2 separate regions of the Homo sapiens genome follow, and region 2 is linked to region 1. Evidence: fine-mapped expression QTL. A gene starts in region 1. The other region holds a variant in brackets. All regions are shown on one strand. Distances are between the middles of the regions. Region 1 holds the start of ARHGEF10 (Rho guanine nucleotide exchange factor 10). Region 2 overlaps ARHGEF10 (Rho guanine nucleotide exchange factor 10).

What was found. PIP is the estimated chance that this variant, and not a neighbour inherited with it, causes the effect.
Region 2: its variant is fine-mapped to the expression of ARHGEF10 in whole blood (TOPMed, PIP above 0.99).

What each region holds. Positions count from the first base shown.
Region 1 is chr8:1,818,530-1,828,925 of GRCh38, reverse strand. It overlaps ARHGEF10 (Rho guanine nucleotide exchange factor 10), which reads right to left and starts at 5,000. Exons shown (of 29, transcript NM_014629.4): 1 at 4,813-5,000. RefSeq lists an enhancer at 1-132.
Region 2 is chr8:1,850,016-1,860,411 of GRCh38, reverse strand. It overlaps ARHGEF10 (Rho guanine nucleotide exchange factor 10), which reads right to left. Exons shown (of 29, transcript NM_014629.4): 3 at 2,297-2,452; 4 at 228-515. Among named protein-coding and RNA genes, the nearest start is that of ARHGEF10, 31 kb to the right of the region's middle. The variant G/C (reference allele first, on the strand shown) is at 5,323.

The sequences.
Region 1 (10,396 bases):
ATCACTGCTTTATTTTCCTTTCAGAAAAAAAAAATAAGCAAACGATAGAATAAAACAGTAAGTGCGCATGCCACAGTTTATCAAAATGTAATTCCTTAAAACCGTAAGTGTGCATGCCACGGTTTATCAAAATGTAATTCCTTAAAACAGTAAGTGTGCATGCCACGGTTTATCAAAATGTAATTCCTTAAAACCGTTAAGTGTGCACGCCACGGTTTATCAAAATGTAATTCCTTAAAACAGTAAGTGTGCATGCCACGGTTTATCAAAATGTAATTCCTTAAAACCGTTAAGTGTGCATGCCACGGTTTATCAAAATGTAATTCCTTAAAACAGGAAGTGTGCATGCCACAGTTTATCAAAATGTAATTCCTTAAAACAGTAAGTGTGCATGCCACGGTTTATCAAAATGTAATTCCTTAAAACCGTAAGTGTGCATGCCACGGTTTATCAAAATGTAATTCCTTAAAACAGTAAGTGTGCATGCCACGGTTTATCAAAATGTAATTCCTTAAAACAGTAAGTGTGCATGCCACGGTTTATCAAAATGTAATTCCTTAAAACCGTTAAGTGTGCATGCCACGGTTTTAAGGGAGGAAGGCACTTTAAGAGGAAGGCACTGCTCTTCCACAACATAATAACGACCACATCCAAGTGTAAGGGTCTGTTCCCCACAGCTGGACAACAAGCCACGGGCACAAAACAAAACAAAGAACGTGATCTCAGCACGGAAGCAACACCTACGACTTGCAGGAGCCTGACTCACCCCGACTCACCTGGTGCCGAAAAGGGCCTCGGCTGTCTGTAGCTATCAGTGGAGGCAGAGTGTTGAGGTACCACAACCATTCCTTCTGTTTTCTTCATTAAACCCCCACTGTGAGTCCCCAGGGACTGACGGTCATTAAGATATTGGAACCTAGAATGGCCAGATTGGTAACTAGCCAATGCTGATGCAGCCAGGCCTATTCTACGCAGACAGCCATGCATCTCTACATGTGCCTGTTAACAACCTGCATGCTTCCCCATCGCTCCCTCACAAGGGCCCCCGCACCAGTCACAGCTCTGGATACCATATTTTACTTTACACAGTTATTTCCCCTATCAGAAGTGACCCATGGAAGAGAAAAACTTTGAACCCAAACATTTTTAAAAATATTTTACACCTTTTTCACATCATTTAACAAAAATATAAAATACCAACAACCCCCATATAGCACTTTCTACTGGCAGGCCTGCTTTACTCTAATGATACAACAAAAAGCAGGAAATGGCAATGATGGAAGGAAAGGAAAAATCCACGATTTAAAATGATCATTTTGACGGGGCATGCAGTGGCTCACGCCTGTAATCCCAGCGCTTTGGGAGGCTGAGGCAGGTGGATCACTTGAGGTCGGGAGTTCAAGACCAGCCTGGCCAACATGGCAAAACCCGTCTACTAAAAATACAAAAATTAGCCGGGCACGGTGGTGGGTGCTTATAATCCCAGCTACTTGGGAGGCAGAGGCAGGAGAATTGCTTGAACCTGGGAAGCAAAGACTGCAGCAAGCCGAATCTCTCCACTGCACTCCAGCCTGGGCAACAGAGTGATACTCCATTTCAAAAAAAAAGATCACTTTTTTATCAAAATTTGGAAAACTACTCACAGAAAACAAACAAACAGAACCAAAACCAATGTCCAAACCTGACAACTATGAACAGGCTGAAGCAGAGTAGGGTGGCAGATGTGGCAGAAGTGTGTGTGTATCAGCGTGGGGGCTGGTGGCAGGGCATTCTCCCTGGGCCCCTTTGCCACACCTGTCCTTACAGGTAACCCTGCCCCTCCCTAGACGGACCTGGGGCTGTGGCCCTGTCTGCCACCCAGGCAAGGACCCCTGCTGGTCACCGGCCTCTGCTCTCCCTGCCTCTCAGACCCTTGGCAGCCCCTGGGCCTGGCCCACCCCTTTCCACTGCAGAGCTCCCAGAACCTTCCAAAATTACACTCCCAGAAAGCCTGGTTAAGGGAGAGAGCTGAAGTTCTCCCTCATGAATGACTAACAGCTACGCTTCCCTTCTGTCTTATTTCACGCCACTTACCTTTCTACCCAGGCAAACTATAAGCAACGCACGCATGAAACACAGATTCTCTGAGCATCTCCAGATCCGAGCTGTTCTTTGCATGCTTCCTGCCACACACTGTGCAGTAAACAATGACGGGCCTACAACAGCGCTTTCTTACATCTCACTATGACGTTTTCACATCGCTTACAGAATACAACCGTCATTAGCGCATTTCCAGTTTGCTCTAATTTATGCCAAACATCTTTGTTTTAAGCAGCACTTCCCCATACAACGCCTTCTAGCAACTTCGTAAGTGAGCACCCTCAAGTCCCGTGAGAAGTCTGGACTCACAGGGCCAGGGAAAAGCTTCCCCACCTCAACCCAGGTCTGTAACTCCACACCCTCCACACCACCCAACGCCTCTATCTACAACTCACACACGCGCACACACACACACACAAAGCGCACACACACACAGCACACACACAAACACACGCACACACAAACGCACACACATGCATACAAACACAAACACATACACAAAGACACACGCACACGTATGCACACACAAACTGCAGAGGAAAGGCAGCACACCAAAGCACCCAGAAGACAAATGTGGTTACATCTGGAAGTCAAGCATCAACTTTTAAAAACATAAAAAGCTATTCTGAATAACTTTTAACTTCACTTCACCCCCAACTGTCTACAACTAATGAATTACAAATAGCACCTTATACAAATGACTTTTCTTACTGCTGAGAAATCCTGGAGGTCTCATCTGTCTATAAAGAGTTATGCATCCGTAACTGCCGATGTTGGCTGCTAAAGCCAGCAAATAAATGCTGTGAGAGACAGACAGGGACAAAGTGTGTTTTTAAAAATACATGACGTGTAAACCTCAGTAATCATCTCTCTTTTCGAATAAAAATTATTTTCTATAAAGCAGGTGTTCAAAACATATTATTAATCAGCAACAGTGAAATTGTTCCTCCTTGCAGCATTCCACCCATATGGACATTAAGTCACTCCTGCACAGAATCTAGAATACTGACCAGTCCGTACTCAGGTTATGGTTAACCAGAGAAAAGAATTAAAACCCGTTACATCTTGAGTCAATGAGAATTTTTACTTGCAGCCAAAGTTAGTGACTGGAATCAATATCAGACAACAGCAAGTTCGTCTACTGCTGCCTGGGAACATGACCTACTGGCCACAGTCGGGAGGGGTACTCAGACCTCACCTTCAGTGCCCAGGGGCCCATGGAAGGGGAGTGGGGCTGGGACAGGTGGGCAGGGCGTCTGTGGACCTAGGGCAGTTTCCTCAGAATCTACCTTGGCTTCTTGGGCACCAGCGGGCTGTGGGGTGCAGGGGAACAGGTGGAGTACGGGGGGGACAGCTGGGGTGCGAGGGACAGCTGGGGTGCAGGGTAAACAGGTGAGGTGTAGGGGGACAGGTGAGGTGCAGAGGACAGGTGGGGATCAGGGGGACAGGTGGGGTGCAGGACAGTTGAGGTGCAGGGGACAGGTGGGGTTCAGGGAGAGAGGTGGGGTGCGAGGACAGGTGGGGTGCGGGGGAACAGGTGGGGTACGGGGAGACAGGTGGGGTGCGGGGGGACAGGTGGGGTGCAGGTGAACAGGTGGGGTGCGGGGGACAGGTGGGGTGCGGGGGGACAGGTGGGGTGCGGGGGGACAGGTGGGGTGCGGGGGGACAGGTGGAGTGCGGGGGGACAGGTGGGGTGCGGGGGGACAGGTGGGGTGCGGGGGGACAGGTGAGGTGCAGGGGGGACAGGTGGGGTGCGGGGGGACAGGTGGAGTGCGGGGGGACAGGTGGAGTGCGGGTGAACAGGTGGGGTGTGGGGGGACAGCTGGGGTGCAGAGTAAACAGGTGGGGTGTGGGGAGGACAGGTGGGGTGCGAGGGGACAGGTGGGGTGCGGGGAACTGGTGGAGTGCAGAGTTAACATGGGGTGCTGAGGGACAGGCGGGGTACACGGGGTGCGGGGAACTGGTGGGGTGTGGGGGGACAGCTGGGGTGCAGAGTAAACAGGTGGGGTGTGGGGAAGACAGGTGGGGTGCAGGGGGAACAGGTGGGGTGCGAGGGGACAGGTGGGGTGCAGAATAAACAGGTAGGGTGCGGGGGGACAGGCGGGGTGCGGGGGAATAGGTGGGGTGTGGGGGGGACAGCTGCGGCGCGGGGGACAGCTGGGGTGCAGGGTAAACAGGTGGGGTGCGGGGGGACAGCTGGGGTGCGGGGAACTGGTGGAGTGCAGAGTGAACAGGGGGTGCTGAGGGACAGGCGGGGTACACGGGGTGCGGGGAACTGGTGGGGTAGGGGGACAGGTAGGGTGCGGGGGAAAGACGCCGGCTTTCCTTACACCGGTCCTTCTCTGCATCCTGAGGCGGACCGCATTCTTCTCCTTTACCGGAAAATCTAAGTTACTGCACGACCCCCCAGGCGAAGCCAGCTCGCCCCTCGGGCTCCTTCCGCCGATCGGAGTTCGCTCCTGCCCCTGGGGCCAGGGGTCCCTGCTGCCAGTCCCTGCTCCCCCCGCCCAGGCCCGCGCCGTTATCCTGAGGGGCCGGGGGCGCCGCGGAAGGGGGAGCTGCTCGGGGGGAGGGGGTCTCAGCCCCTTCCCTGAAACATCTGCGCAGGGGGTCGGGGGCGCAGCCACCTCCGGGTGGGACCCAGCGATTTCGGGGGAGCCGGGCAGAAGTGCAACTCTCAAAGGAAACCAGAAGCCCGCGAGGGGACCCACGGTCCGCGGGGCCCGCACTCACCTCGGCGGCCAGGACGCGACCCGCAGTCCCCTGCTGTTCCCCGCCGTCCCCCGCTGTTCCCCGCCGTCCCCCGCTGTTCCCCGCCGTCCCCCGCCGTTCCCCGCCGTCCCCCGCGTCCCCCGCGTCCCCCGCGACCCCGTCCGTCCCGGATCGCGCGCCCGCCGGCTACAGGGATGCGCCCAGCCCCTCCCGCCCGGACGGCCTGCTCCACCCACCATGCTGTCATTGGCGGGCCCAGACCGTTCCGGGCGCCCATTGGCCGCAGAGCCTGCCGGTTTCTCGGCAGCGCCCTGCCCTCGCGCCCGCGCATTCCTTCGAGGCCACGTGGCCGCCCGCGCCCCCTCCCGCTGCCCAACGCCCGGCCCAGGCTGCGCACGCGTGGGAGGGGGCGCGCGGCAGAGGCTCCCGCCCCCGGATCATCTCCTGCCCCGCGGACCCCGGGCCGCGCTCACTTCGGGAGGGGTCGCTGGGCAGACCGAGTGCCCTCCCCGCCCCCAACATCTGGATCCTCCCCGCAGAGCCTGCTCCCGGCTCAGAGCTGCGCCCCTTGGGGAGGGTGCGCCGGGCAGACCCTAACCCTCTCCCAGAGCACCGCCCTTTCTGCGGACCCCCACGGGCTGAGCTCACCTGAGGGAGGGGGCGTCGGGCAGACGCTCCCCCCCCCAGAACATCGCCCCTCCCTGCGGACACCCGGGGTGCGCCCAGCCGAGGAGGGGGCGTCGGGACCCCACCCGACCCGCCCTTGAGCCCCCGTCCCTCCGTCCGCAGCTGGCCCTGCCCACAGGGCGTTCCGGGTCTTCCGCGCCAGCTGCCCTGGACCAGCCAAGGCTTGGGCGTTTGGAAATGCGATGACTTCAGCCACGTTTCCGAGGCAGTTTTTGAAGCTTGCTTCTTGCCAGGAAGCGCTCGTTTTTCCCGGGACCTTTCCAGGGAATGGCCCCTTCTGAGTTATTGGAATTGTTTACTTTGAGCATTTATTTGTCTTATACTTTTAAAAAGGAAACAGATTATCGTTATAATTACTATTAAAGAAAAAAAAAAACGAGAAACAAAGACATTTTTAACCAAAATAACTAAAGGATGTTATCTTTTACCTGGTCAGCACATTTAACAAGTGTGTTCGCAGATGCTAGATTTATTTCTATGCCTTCTCCTACCCAAATCTCCGAATCATAGAAGTAATTTTAAGTCAGTGTTTTAGAACTGTCAGACTTCTTAGAGATTTCTAGCCCCTTTCACTTGTTTTATAGAAGAAATACAAACAGCTATTTGGGATGCTAAGTATCACGAAATTAATCTAAACATTAACTGCCCTTAAGGCTTGTGTGCTCTGGAATAAGTTATTTCCCTGAAAATTTTGGACTATGTAAAAATCATAGCCAACATAGAAAGACTACAATGGCTGGAAAAAATAATCGTAGGTAAGGTGATATTTTTTCAATGTTTATTATTCACACTTGCTAATTTTATGAAATCAGACTGAGTTGTTTTTATGAATCAATTGAAAAAGGTATTTGCTCTCAGCGACCTTAAGATTAGAAAACTTATTTCAGGTTTCTATTCCTAGGGTTCTCTGGGTACCTTATTCAGAGATCTTCTGCACAGATCAATGGTCAGATCAATGGTCTTGATCAACAGAAGTAAGAAGGTCAACTAAATTAGTTCTTGTTTACCTAAATACGATGAGAAAATCCTGATACTTGTAGTGTTTTCTAAAAAGGTAGAGATAAGAGGAAATAGTCCTGTGTATGGAATAAACAACTCATTTTCTCAATGGATGAAATTGAGCCCCTAAACTCAGGGCCGCCAGGGACACCACTGAGTAGGGCCACAGAGCAATGCCTTCCAGGCAGGTTGGGCAGAAAATCCCCTGATTTGGAGCTCCAATAGATCCTGTCTGTCTGCTTTATTCAGGCGTTCCTCACAGATACATCCCTATTTTCGTAAGCCCGGATATGGAAGAGTTGGGATTTTCCATTGTGATTCCCTCTTTGACCCATGGGATATTTAGAAAAGTTAGGTTCACCTTTCAAATATATGGGGACTTTCTGGTTTTCTTTTTATTGTAACTAAAGTTTAATTCCACCGGGCCTTAAAACATCAGCTGTTTTATTTTTGTCGTTTAAGATTTTCAAACACTTGCTTCATGGCCCAACATTGTCTATTTTGGTAAATGTTCTATGAGCACTTGCTGAGAACATGCTTTCACTGACATAAAGTTCTACAGATGTCAATTAGGTCATATTTGTTACTGATTTTTTTATCTACTTGTACTTTTTATCTACTTGTACTTTTTATCTACTTGTACTGATAAGGGTGTATGAAAATCTTTGACTCTCCGTAGTCTATTCAGCATTGTCCTGCAGCATCTAACAAGTGTTGTAGGTCATAAAAACAAAAAGTGTAAGGATTGAGGGAGGAAAAACTGATTATTTACAGTCAATATGATTATATATGTTAAAAAACAAAATTATCTACAAATAAACTATTAGGATTAAAATAGAATTTAGGAATTTCAGATGGATCATAGACTTAAGTGTAAAAATTATAAAGTTGCTAGGATAAAATATAAGAAAAGATCTTACGGATCTTCAGGTAAGACAGAAAATGGACCGACCATTTAAAAATGATTAAATGGCTTATCAAAATTTAATATTTCTACTCATCTCATGACATCATTAAGAAAATGAAAAGGCAAGCCACAGACTGGGAGAACACAGGGGCAATGCATATATCCCACAAATGGCTTGTCTTAATCCACGTTGTGCTGCTGTAACAGAATACCTGGGAATGGGTGATTTACAATGAAAAGAAATTTATTTCTCACAGTTCTGGAGGCTGGGAAGTTCAAGATCAAGGAGCCACATCTGGCAAGAACCTTCGGGCTGCATCATCCCATGACGGAAGGTGGGAGGCGGAGGTGGGGAGGGAGGATGCAAAATGGGCCAAACTTATCTTTTTTTTTTTTTTTTTTGAGACGGAGTCTTGCTCTGTCATCAGGCTGGAGTGCAGTGGTGCGATCTCTGCTCACTGCAACCTCCGACTCCCTGGTTCAAGCTATTCTGCCTCAGCCTCCCGAGTAGCTGGGATTACAGGTATGTGCCACCACACCCAGCTAATTTTTGTATTTTTAGTAGAGACGAGGTTTCACCCAAACTCATTCTTTTATAAGGAGCCCACCGCCTCAGTCATGGCATTTATCCATCCATGAGGGTCATACCCCCATGACCCAGACACCACCTAGTAGGCACCTTCCAACACTGCTGCATTGGGGGTCAAGTTTCCAACACATAAACTTTGGGGAAAACGCGTTCAAACCATAGTCCTGGTAAATAGAGAACTCCTGCAAATGAACAATAACAAGACAAGTCTATTTCAAAAGGGACAAAACAATATAACAATAACAAGCCTGTAAATAACAATAACAAGTCTATTTAAAAATAAACAAAAGACGTAAATACTTCACCAAAGATGTACTGATAGCCAACAAGAACAGGAAATAGTGCTCAGTGTTACCCAAAGTAAACTCACAATGAGATGCCACCACCGTCATCCAAGCACGGCTGAAACTGCAGACCGACATGGCAAGGGTAAAAATGTGGAGCCCCTGGAACCACTATACAAGGCGATGAGAGTGCAAATGGCGCAACCACTCTGATTAATTGTTTGCCCATTTCTCAGCAATCCCACTTTTAGGTTTGCCCAAGGCAAGTGAAAACATAAGTCCCTTAAAAGACTTTTACAGCCAGACATGGTGACTCCCACCTGTAACCCCAGCACTTTAGGAGGCCAAGGTGGAGGATTGCTTGAGCCCAGGAGTCTAGCATGATAGTCTCCACCTCCAGTCCCAGCTACTTAGGAAGCTGAAGTGGGAGGATCGCTTGAGGCTGGGAGGTCAAGGCTGTAATGAGTCATGTTCACCACCACTGCACTCTAGCCTGGGTGGACAGAGCAAGACCCTGTCTCAAAAAAAAAAAATGATTTTTACAAGAATTCTTTCTTCAAAACAGTTCAAATACTTCGCAACTGGAAACAACCCAAATTCCATCAACAGGTGAACTCATAAAGTATTGTATCTTCATAGAATAATAGAATACTAATAATACAGTAATAAAAAGGAAGAAACTGATATGTTCAATAACAATGAATCTTGAAAACATGAAAAACATAGACAAAAGGGCACATATAGTATGATTCAATTTTTATGAAATTCAAGAATGTGCCAAACCAACCTATAATAATAGGAATCAGAACAGTGGTTATTTTTGGGGGTATTGTCTCAGAAAAGACAAAGGAATTCTGGGGAGTGATGAAAACGGTGACTACATCTTGATTTGATTTGCAGACACATGGGTGTGTTCACTTTGTAAATAGAATCAAGCCGAACACAAGAGTAAGCTACTTCATGGGATATATACAGTGGCCTCAATGCATCCCCCTTGATGACTGAAAGTTCATCACCAACGTGATAGCAGTAAGAGGTGGGGCCTTGAGGAGGTTAGTGGGTCATGAGGGATGGGCTTAGTGCCCTTGTAGAAGTGCCAGGGGGCTGTTCACCCCTCCTACCAGTGAGGGCACAGTGCTCAAGGTGCTGTCTTGTGAGCAGAGACCAGGCTCTCCCCAGACACTGAACCTGTTGGCACGTTGATCTTGGACTTCCCCACGTCCAGAACTGTGAGAAATAAACTCCTGTTGTCTATAAATGACCCAGTCTCTGGTGTTTTGTTACAGTAGCAGGAACAAATTAAGTTATGTATCAGCAAAAAGGGGTTTTAAAAGCTGGGTTCCTTTAAAAAAATAATGATTCCCTTTATTGACGGAATACAAAATATCCCTTAATTAATTGCAAGCAAATTAAGTGCAAGGCCCATGCAGAGGGTAGGGATAATCTATACCCTAGTTAGGACATTCAGAAAGGAAAAAAATGGCAAAGACAGCCTGCCTGGTTCTAGGCCTCGCCTCTACTCCAGAGACGTCTCCATGCCCCACGCGGAGCGGGTGCGTGAGGTCAGCTCTAGCAGGGCCTAAAGGCCTGGGCTCTATCATCAAATAGGCCCGGGGGCTTCTGCCTCTTTTACCACTATATGGATGAACATGGGCGTCATTCAATGTCCTGGGCCTCAGTCTCCTCACTGAAAACAAGAGCAAAACCTACTTAGGCAGCATGAAGACTCAACACTTTCATGTGCAGAGACCGGTGTCAGGGCACCTGACCCCATGGACATCTCGGGGGAGCCTGAGGCACTGTCCGAAGATGGAAGCTTGTATCCACTCCTGGGCACAGTTCCTGGGTTCACATCCCAGGCACTTCCCTTACCAGCTGTGCTATCTGCATTGCTGTGCCTCAGTTTCCTGCAAAGAATTGGAAAGACATTCGCACCTACTGTGCGGGTCAGTTTTATATGTCACCTTGACCAGGTGACAGTCCCCGGTAATTCATTCAACATGGGTCCAGATGTGGCTGTGGAGGTGTTCTGTTGGTGTGCAAAAGACCCATCACAGTGGACTTTAAATGAGGAAGACTATGTTAGACAATCCGGGTGGGCCCGATTCAGCACTGGAAAGGCTTTCCAGAGAAGAAATT
Region 2 (10,396 bases), 31 kb before region 1:
CATGGAGAGGAGGAGGAGGGGGGAAGGTTAGGCCCGGACTCTACGGAACCACAGGCCACATCGGGGGCATGGAGAGGAGGAGGAGGGGGGAAGGTCAGGCCCGGACTCTACGGAACCACAGGCCACATCCGGGGCATGCAGAGGAGGGAACCACAGGCCACTTCGGGGGCGTGGAGAGGAGGGAACCACAGGCCACTTCGGGGGCGTGGAGAGGAGGGTAGCAGTACCTTCTTCGTCCAGGGACGTGGCGCAGATGATGACCGGGCTGGAGTAGGCGGGCAGCAGGAGGGGCAGGTTGGAGGGCACCGCATAGCCGCAGGGTACAGGCACCAAGTACCCGCAGGGCACATGGAGACCCACATTCTCCTCCTCAGCGCTGGGCACGGGGGTGGGCGGCTGGTCCTCCTGGAATGGCGTGATGTCGATGACAGAATATGGGTTGACTTTCATCGGGAGCACCAGCTTAGTAGGCTCTGCCACTGGGGTGGTTTCTGCTCCAGCTCCATCCTCACCTCCTGGGGATGCAGAAAGGACTTGTCAGCAGACACATCACCAAGGGCATGGCAGGCATGCCCTCCTGGAGCGCAAGTGGGAAGCAGGTATGAGCTCCCACCATCATCCCATGCCAGGACCCCTAGACGTTCCCAGGTCATCAGGTGGCCTCGGAGGGAGCACTCACACATGGGGAACCCAGCATCACCTCTGGGCACAGGTGAGACGGATGCAGCCTGGTCACTACAGGAGGCTCATCCCATGAGCTAAGTCAGGGAGAAGCTGCCGGAGGAGGGCAGCTGCTCCCCTCACCAAGAGTCTGGTGCTACACACAAAGAAACACCATGCAAGCTGAGAGGCGGGTGCTGTGCACAAAGAAACGCCATGCAAACAACCGAGAGGCTGATGCTATGGCCAAAGAAACACTGTGCAAACAACCGAGAGGCTGGTGCTATGCACAAAGAAACACCATGTAAGCAGAGAGGCGGGTGCTGCGCACAAAGAAACACCGTGCAAACAACCGAGAGGCAGGTGCTATGGCCAAAGAAACACCGGGCAAACAACCGAGAGGCTGGTGCTATGCACAAAGAAACACCGTGTAAGCAGAGAGGCGCGTGCTGCACACAAAGAAACACCATGCAAACAACCAAGAGGCAGGTGCTATGGCCAAAGAAACACCGGGCAAACAACCGAGAGGCAGGTGCTATGGCCAAAGAAACACCGGGCAAACAACCGAGAGGCTGGTGCTGTGCACAAAGAAACACCGTGTAAGCAGAGAGGCGCGTGCTGCGCACAAAGAAACACCGTGCAAGCAGAGAGGCGGGTACTATGCACAAAGAAACACCGTGCAAACAACCAAGAGGCAGGTGCTATGGCCAAAGAAACACCGGGCAAACAACCGAGAGGCTGGCGCTACGCACAAAGAAACCATGCAAAGAACCGAGAGGCTGGTGCTACGCACAAAGAAACACGGTACAAGCCAAGAGGTGGGTGCTATGCACAAAGAAACGGCATGCAAACAACCGAGAGGCTGGTGCTGCACCCAAAGAAATGCCGTGCAAGCAGAGAGAAACACTGTGCAAACTGACAGGCTGGTACTACACCTGAAGAAACACCGTGCGAGCCAAGAGGAACGCTGCCAAACTGAGAGGCTGGTACTACACCTGAAGAAACACCGTGCGAGCTGAGAGGCGGGTGCTACACAGGAAGAAACACTGTGCAGGCTCTCCCACCACTGCCTGACCTGAGCAGTCCCTCTGGTCAGCGAATGAAAGCACCCAACCCACCTCCAAACTTAGAAAGCGAAACCTCTACAGCTACTTCATCCCACATGTTCTGAATATTTCTTTTAATCTAGTGATACAATGATGAGGTCATTCTTATTGGGAAATAGCAATACTTTTTCTTTGCAAAATACAAAGGTAGAGTGAAAAGGTTGAAAATTATGGAAAATAGTACAAAGAGAAGAAACTTAGCCAATCTTAAATTAAGTCCTTTCAGGTACATCATGAAGAAATCATAACTCTCTGGCTCCTAGAAATCATCCTTTCCCTACAATGTTCCAATTGGGCCGTAAGAATGGGGAGAAAATCGGCGAGTCCGATGGCTGAGCACAGGTGACCCTGATGCCGGTGATCTGCGGACTCACCTGGGAACCCCCCAGGGGACTCACCTGGGGACCCACCTGGGGACTCACCTGGGGACTCACCTGGGAACTCACCTGGTGACTCACATGGGGACCCACCTGGGGACTCACCTGGGGACCCACCTGGGGACTCACCTGGGGACCCTCCTGGAAACTCACCTGTGGGTGCAGGGGCTTCACTGGCTCCAGCACCTCCTGTCTCAGGGGCGGATGGGGCCTGTCTGTCCGCTTCTGGGATTTCATCTCCACTGTCAAAATCGAACTGTTCTCCCTCTTCCTCTTCATTATTATTGGTATCATATTTCATTTCATTTTCTAAAAAGAAAAACCAAAACCACATCAAGGAGAGATAGATAGATAGATAGATAGATAGATAGATAGATAGATAGATAGATCGATCGATCTATGTTAGCCAGAGACACTGACTAAGTTCCTCTGTGCTGTACTGCGCTTGTAGTTAACCTTTTTAAGGGGCAAAATAAGTATCATTAGAATTCTGAGTCACTGGTTTTTATTTTCTTTTAATAGGATCTACAACTCACAGAGAAGAAACAAGAGGCTGGGGGTGGTAGCTCACATCTGTAATCCCAGCACTTTGGGAGGCCAAGGTGGGCAGATCACAAGGTAAGAAGCTTGAGACCAGCCTGGCCAACATGGTGAAACCCCATCTCTACTAAAAATAAAAAAATTAGCCAGGCGTGTTGGCGGGCACCTGTAATCCCAGCTTCTCAGGAAGGTGGGGCAGGAGAATGGCTTGAACCCGAGAGGCGGAGGTTGCAGTGAACCGAGATTGCACCATTGCACTCCAGCCTGGGTGACAGGGCAAAACTCTGTCTCAAAAAAAAAAAAAAAGAAAAGAAAACAAGAGAAAGTAAGGGGAAAAAAGAGCTTTTCACATTTTAAATCTGTGCACCCAGCAGATGAACATCACCCGGCTGGGCTGATGGTCTGGAAGAGAATTCAGTATCATCCACTTTACTTTTAGAAATAACTTCTGACACCTTGCATCTCTCCCTAGAATTCTTCTCCTTTTATTTTCATTTTGCCTCTCTTATTTACAATTTTAATTAAATATCTCTGATGGTTAGAAAATCAGTGTCAAATATGAACACCGATATATAGCTTAAAATACAAACCTCCATAATTATTAAAGAGCATGGTTAATAACTGTTCCAAGTAAGTGCTTGATAAGAAACATTTTGCAGGAGGCGAGTCACAGGTCTCCTTGGACCGGGGTTACGGCTGATGGCGCAGCCTGCCGTGTGCATCATTTGCAGAGACGGCGTGCTAGGACTGTGTGCCACCATCAGAGCAGACAGGTGCTTCTCCTTTTTCCAGAGGAGACCCATGTGCTGGGACAACACCACCCGGCACACCCAGGAGCGAGAGGAACCCAGCCCCTGCCAGCCTTTCCCAAGGGCTGGGATTTCTTCCCAGCACACGTTCCTGAGGAAACCTCCTGCTGCCATGCCCGGCAATCCACAGAAGCAGGTGGCACCTCGGGACAGAGCCTGGGTCAGCCCAAACCAAGCCCCTCCAACACAGACAATCCCCCGTGGGCCAGGGAGATGCACCCAAGCAGGACGGCCCAGCTCGGCTGCAGGCAGCTCCGGAGGGGGCTGAGGGGGAGCCCTGCTAGGGAGCAACCCACAGACACACAACCCACTTACACTCCACGCAGTCTCCAGGCGCTCTCTGCCGAGCCTCCTGGGGAAGTCGCCTCCCGGGGAACTCTAGCGGTCTAAAAACAACCTTTAAATTTGAGGTGTTTCATTTTCCTTTGAATCTCCTAAACTAGTCATACATTCTAGGAGTGCCTTTTGAAGGAAACAGATTTTTAGGTCACCACAAATACACAGAGGGGCCCAGGCCCACGACAGCGTGAACTGGATCCAGCTACCACTGCAAGGACGGTGGGGATGAGACCCCCAGCTGACCATGACACCTGGGGACCCCACGAGCTTTCTGGAACTGCTTCCACCAACACTCACGAGTTTTACAAGTATGAGAATGACAAATACTAAAATTGAATCAAGAAAAAGGATTCAGAAATGTGTTATTTTTAAAACATACGTCTGATAGGAGTGTGTGTTGCTGTCCTTCTGGATGGTGAACTCTGCTCTGCCCAGATACCAAAGCCTCACCCACTTCCTAGAGGGTCAAAGACTTCTCTAAATTCAAAGTTTTGAATTTAAGCCTAATCAAATGAAACAATCGAAGCAGGGGGAGAGCTGGAATGGACAGAACCGCTAATTTCCAGAGTTTGAGCCTTGTTAACTATGTACTTTCAAACCAGTCCTCACTGTCTCCCAAGCGACCGTAAACAAAACCTATTTCAGAAGGGGTTTTTTTTTTTGCCATATCATTAAGTAGTCAGTTTATGGAAATGAACTGGTGAATACCTTTTAAAGTAAAAAGTTAAACAAACAAAAAAACTGTTTTCTGGAATATTTTCCAAATGCAACTGTCATTTCCACAGAATTCACGTTTGGGGAGAAAAAATCATGTTTGCCAAATAAACGTGCTGCGGAAACAATGCCGACTAAATGCCGTGACGAAAATGATCAGTGAAAATGTTTATGTATTGCTGGGCGCAGGGGCTCACACGTGTAATCCCAGCACTTTCAAAGGCCAAGGAGGACTAATTGCTTGAGCCCAGGAATTTGAGACCAGCCTGGACAACATAGTGAAACCCCGTCTCTTAAAAAAAAAAAAAGGTACAAAAATTAGCCTGGGGTGAAGGCGTGGACCTGTGGTCCCACCTACTCCGAAGGCTGAGGTGGGAGGATCACCTGAACCCAGTAAGCGGAAGTTGCAGTGAGCTGAGATTGCGCCACCGCACTGCAGCCTGGGGGACAGAGCAACACCTTGTCCCCCACCCCAAAAAAAGTTTCTGTTCTGACCACCCCAAAAAAAGTCACTGCCAGGCACATGTTCAGATTCATCCAGACGGTGACACAATCACACTAGATTTTTATATTGTCAACTCTCTTTTTTGGAAATTATAGTTTACTACCGCTGAACTCAAACAATTAGATAAAATACACCTAGACATGAGTCTATAAATATTGTTTTTTAAAAAAGCTTGACAATGTCTGGTACAAAATAGGCTCTCAAATATCTGCAAGGGGAGAAACATGAGCTGTTGGGACCGGAACCCACACTGTACCCCATACAGGAAGAAG[G/C]AATTCTCTTTAAAGTCTTCAGGAAGGAAGGCCGTGAACAGGAGCCCGTGTGTGCAGGAAACAGCCCTGAGGAGACACCGAGGCCCCTCCACTCCCTCCCCATACGCCACCTCCTGGGCTGTGACACCAGCCCCGGGAGACCGGTGGGATTACCTGGGACAGTGCATGTCCCGTGTGCCAGGTACAGGTATGACCCTGAGAAGAACCGCATGCGTTCTCGGAGCCGGCACCTCTGCTCACCGCCCAGCAAGGTGCAGTGGGAAACCTGGTTGGCGGCAATGTGTGACACGCACATCATGTGAGCGAATGAATGAGAGAATGACGAGCAGATGAGCAAGCTTCAAACTGTTTTTTGCCAAAATAACTCACTTTTTCCCCTAGTAAAATTTAAGTAGAATTCTACTATACAAGGGAAATCAAAGCAATCAAGAAATTCCTCCAAAAGTTTAAATCTTGTTAGTTTAGACTTGGAGGGGCTTGGAAGGGGCTTGGGGCTTGGAATTCAAGAGCTCTCTGCTGTCATTGAAAGACTGGCAGACACTGGCGGAGCTGCCCTCCATCCTCTGCAAACACTGCAGGGAAAGACTTTCAAGTTATATAGACTCTGCAGAATGATGTGTGTTACAAATTCCTCTCAGAATTCAGTTCCAGTAAGAAAAAAATAGCCTTTCTACAAGAACTCAAAGAAGTTGTGCTCAATGTAACCACCTGAGGCTGCACCCCTGCCTGCATGGGTGCCCACAGCTGTGCCCACGGCGGGCGCCCAGGACAGAGGGCGAGGCCGCCTGGAGCTGGGCTGCTCCTCTGACCCCCACCTCCAAGGGGGCCTCCATCGATGGTGAGGCTGCGCCGCCCTCTGAGGTGAGCATGGGGCCGGGCGTTCAAGGTGGTGTGTGCTGAGCATGTCCATCCCAGACACTGCCCTGGGCCCTGGGGGATCCTGGGCATCACAGACCCCACCCGAGCTCCCCAGGTCCCTTAGTGAAGTGCAATGCAGAATGCCTTTAAAAATCCCAGCATTTGGGGTCCTAAGTTTAGTTCTGACACCAGCCCTGACAGGTTCAATTGTGTCCCCTAAATCCCTGTGCTGAAATCCTCACCCCCAGTCTGCTGGTGAGCTCGTCTGCAAACAGGTGACTGCAGGTGCAATTGGTTTACAGGAGGCTGTGCTAGAGCAGGCTCGGCTAACCCAGTGTGGCAGTGTCCTCATGACAGCAGAGGCCAGCACAGGGACGAGGAGCCACCTGGCAGTGCAGCTGCAGGAACTCCCGGGAGTGCCCACAGCCGGCGGGCGCTGGAAGAGGCAAGGAAGGCTGTGACCTACATTCCCGGGGAGCACACACAGCCTGCCAGCACCCTGACCTGGGACTTCCGGCCTGCAACCCAGGAGGCTCCCCCGCAAGCTCGGCCAAGCCCTTTCCAACACAAAAGGTCCTGTGCCATCCTCAGGGCCCTGGCGGGAGCCAGGCAAGCTGGGCTGGGTCGGTTCCCACAACACTCCTGCTGCAGCCACAGAAGGAATTCCCGCTTCTCAAAACCCCAGCTTCAGAACCCAGCCATTCAGCTGAAGGAGAACACTGATGAGAAAAACTACAATTTGCAAACTAGAAAAGATGCTCAAGGGCTGCTGAAAGCATCTCAGGAGATACAACGTGTTGTAGTTTGAGACGACATGGATCTTTCAAAAAGCTGTTGGGGAATCTGCAGTGTAGCCGTCATTCGCTGGACACACCATGGCCCAGTGTTCTCCGCCCGTTGGTCCCTGTGGAGCCCAGGAGGTGGGCGGGAAGGGCCCGGCGCTCTGGGTAGGCAGCTGGCAGGGAAGCAGGGAAGGGCGGCCTGGGCAGGGCTGCACCTAGGGAGAGGCTCTGTGCCCCTCCTGCCCACTCAGGACGGCAGGTTCTGAGAGTCACCCATGAAGGCCATGACACGGAGGAGGAAACACAGACGGCAGTGCAGCCCGTGCCGACCCACAGGCATCCAGCCCAAATCTAACCACCCGCCAGTGCCCGGCCCAAATCTAACCACCCGCCAGCGCCCGGCCCAAATCTAACCTGGGGACCATTCTTCCCCTGCCCCTCTCCTCTGGCCTGCCCAGGACAGGCTGCCCTCTGGCCACAGCTGCACTTCCCAGGAAAACTGCAGGCTCTGCTGCATTCAGGGGCCAGCCCTTGTGGGTCACCGGCAGCTTGACACGACACCCCTAATGCTGACCGACAGCAGCAGCCATTTAAGCCTCAGGATTCAGACTGTTTCCGTCACAGCAGGGCCATTGGGGCTGCCTTGGTGGCACTGACTTCTTACCAACCTGACTTTTTACACTTGTGAGTATGCAGGTAATTGGCTCATCAATTAAGGCACACATTTCTAAAACAAGTTATGAAATAGAAAACTTTAAGAAACATTACGTTTCCAATCATTATGACATAATATGACCATGCCCATTTTAAGTTATGCCTATATGCAAAAAAGGGCGAGGAAGTTACCTGACAATCCAATCTTCGAAATGCTGCTGCTAGAAAAGGTGCTGCTCCCGGGTTCTCTCCAGGATGATGGAGAGGTTCTAGAGGGCCCTCAGGACAGAAACGGTGCTGCTCCCCGGTCCTCTCCAGGATGATGGAGAGGTTCTAGAGGGCCCTCAGGACAGAAACGGTGCTGCTCCCCGGTCCTCTCCAGGATGATGGAGAGGTTCTAGAGGGCCCTCAGGACAGAAACGGTGCTGCTCCCCGGTCCTCTCCAGGATGATGGAGAGGTTCTAGAGGGCCCTCAGGACAGAAACGGTGCTGCTCCCCGGTCCTCTCCAGGATGATGGAGAGGTTCTAGAGGGCCCTCAGGACAGAAACGGTGCTGCTCCCCGGTCCTCTCCAGGATGATGGAGAGGTTCTAGAGGGCCCGCAGGACAGCTCAAGTCACACATGGCTATTGCACTTGGGGTGGCCAGTGTGACCAAGAGCCTCAGTTGTTGTTGTTATTTAATTCTTATCAATTCTAAGTTTTGTAGACACCTGAGCCTAGTGGACCTCGCAGGCCTGAATCTCGAGCTATCAAGACGGCTAACGGCCTGTCTGAGCCTGAGAGCCGTCCCCACACCCACAGGGCCCCTCTGCTTGTGTCTGTCTTCATATGGTCTGCAGCAGAGATTCATTTCCATTTGGTTATTAATTTTTTTTTTTTTTGAGACAGAGTCATGCTCTGTTGCCCGCGCTGGAGTGCAGTATTGCGATCGCAGCTTACTGCAGCCTTGACCTCCTGGGCTCAAGCAATCCTCCCACCTCAGCCTCCCAAGCAGCCAGGACTACAGGCATGAGCCACCACGCCTGGCTAAGTTTTATTATTTTTAATAGAGACGAGGTGGCACTATGTTGCCCAGGCTGGTCTCAAACTCCTGAACTCAAGTGATCCTCCTGCCTCGGCCTCCCAAAGTGCTGGGATTACAGGCAAGAGCCAACGTGCCCACCCCAGTTTGGTTGCTTTTAAGAGATACAACTTTTTAGAGCAGTTTTAGGTTCACAGGAAAATTGAGAGGAAGGTACAGAGAGTTCTCATATACTCCCCACCCCCAAAGAGAGCCTCCCCCAACACTATCCCCCATCCTTTGCCAGAGTGGAACACTTGTTGCAACTGAGAAGCCAACACTGAGGTACGTCACTAACTAAAGCCCACGGTGTGTGTTAGGCCTCGCTCCTGGTGCTGTGCCTTCTGTGTGAGGAGCCAACAATGAGGTATGTCACTAACTAAAGCCCACGGTGTGCGTGAGGCCTCGCTCCTGGTGCTGTGCCTTCTGTGTGAGGAGCCAACACTGAGGTACGTCGCTAACTAAAGCCCACGGTGTGCGTGAGGCCTCGCTCCTGGTGCTGTGCCTTCTATGGGTTTGGACAGGCGTGTAATGATGTTGAGGTACGTCGCTAACTAAAGCCCACGGTGTGCGTGAGGCCTCGCTCCTGGTGCTGTGCCTTCTATGGGTTTGGACAGGCGTGTAATGACATGGATGCACCATTATCAAGGAATTTCGTGGCCCTAAAAATCCCGTGCTCCGCCTGTCACCCCTCCCCCCCGCAAACCCCTAGCAACCCTGAGCTTGTTACTGTATAATTTTGTTTTCTAGAATGTCACGTGGTTGGAATCGCACCGGGCGCAGCCTTTTCAGGTTGGCTTCTCTCGCTCAGTAAGATGCATTTAAGGCTCCTCCATGTCTTTTCACGGCTTGGCAGCTCATTTCTTCCTAGCACTGAATGTTCCACTGTCTGAATGGGCCCCAGTTTATCCATCCATTCACCTCCTGAAGGACATCATGGCTGCTTCTGGGTTCTGGCAATTATGAATAAAGCTGCTATCAACACCTATATGGGCAGGTATTGAGTGGACATTAAGTTTTCAACTCATTTAAATAAATACGCCGGGGCATGGCTGCAAGTCACACGGTAAGAGTGTGCTCAGGTTTGAAGAAGCCACCAAACTGCCCTCCCACGCGGCTGCCCCACGCCCTCTAGCCACCCGCCAGCACCCGGCCCTCCTCAGCATTTGCCGTCTGTGTCCACGCAGCTGCCCCACGCCCTCCTCAGCATTTGCCATCTGTGTCCACGCGGGTGGCCCATGCCGTCTTCCGCACTTGCCGTCCATGCCCACGCGGTTGCCCCACACCCTCCTCAGCATTTGCCGTCTGTGTCCACGCGGTTGCCCCACACCCTCCTCAGCATTTGCCGTCCATGCCCACGCGGCCGCCCCACACCCTCCTCGGCATTTGCCGTCTGTCCACACGGTTGCCCCACGCCCTCCTCAGCATTTGCCGTCCATGCCCACGCGGCCGCCCCACACCCTCCTCAGCATTTGCCGTCTGTGTCCACGCGACTGCCCCACGCCCTCCTTAGCATTTGCCATCCATGCCCATGTGGCCGCCCCACGCCCTCCTCAGCATTTGCCCTCTGTGTCCACGTGGCCGCCCCACACCCTCCTCAGCATTTGCCCTCTGTGTCCATGCAGCCGGCCCACGCCCTCCTCAGCATTTGCCCTCTGTGTCCACGCAGCCGGCCCACGCCCTCCTCAGCATTTGCCCTCTGTGTCCATGCAGCCGGCC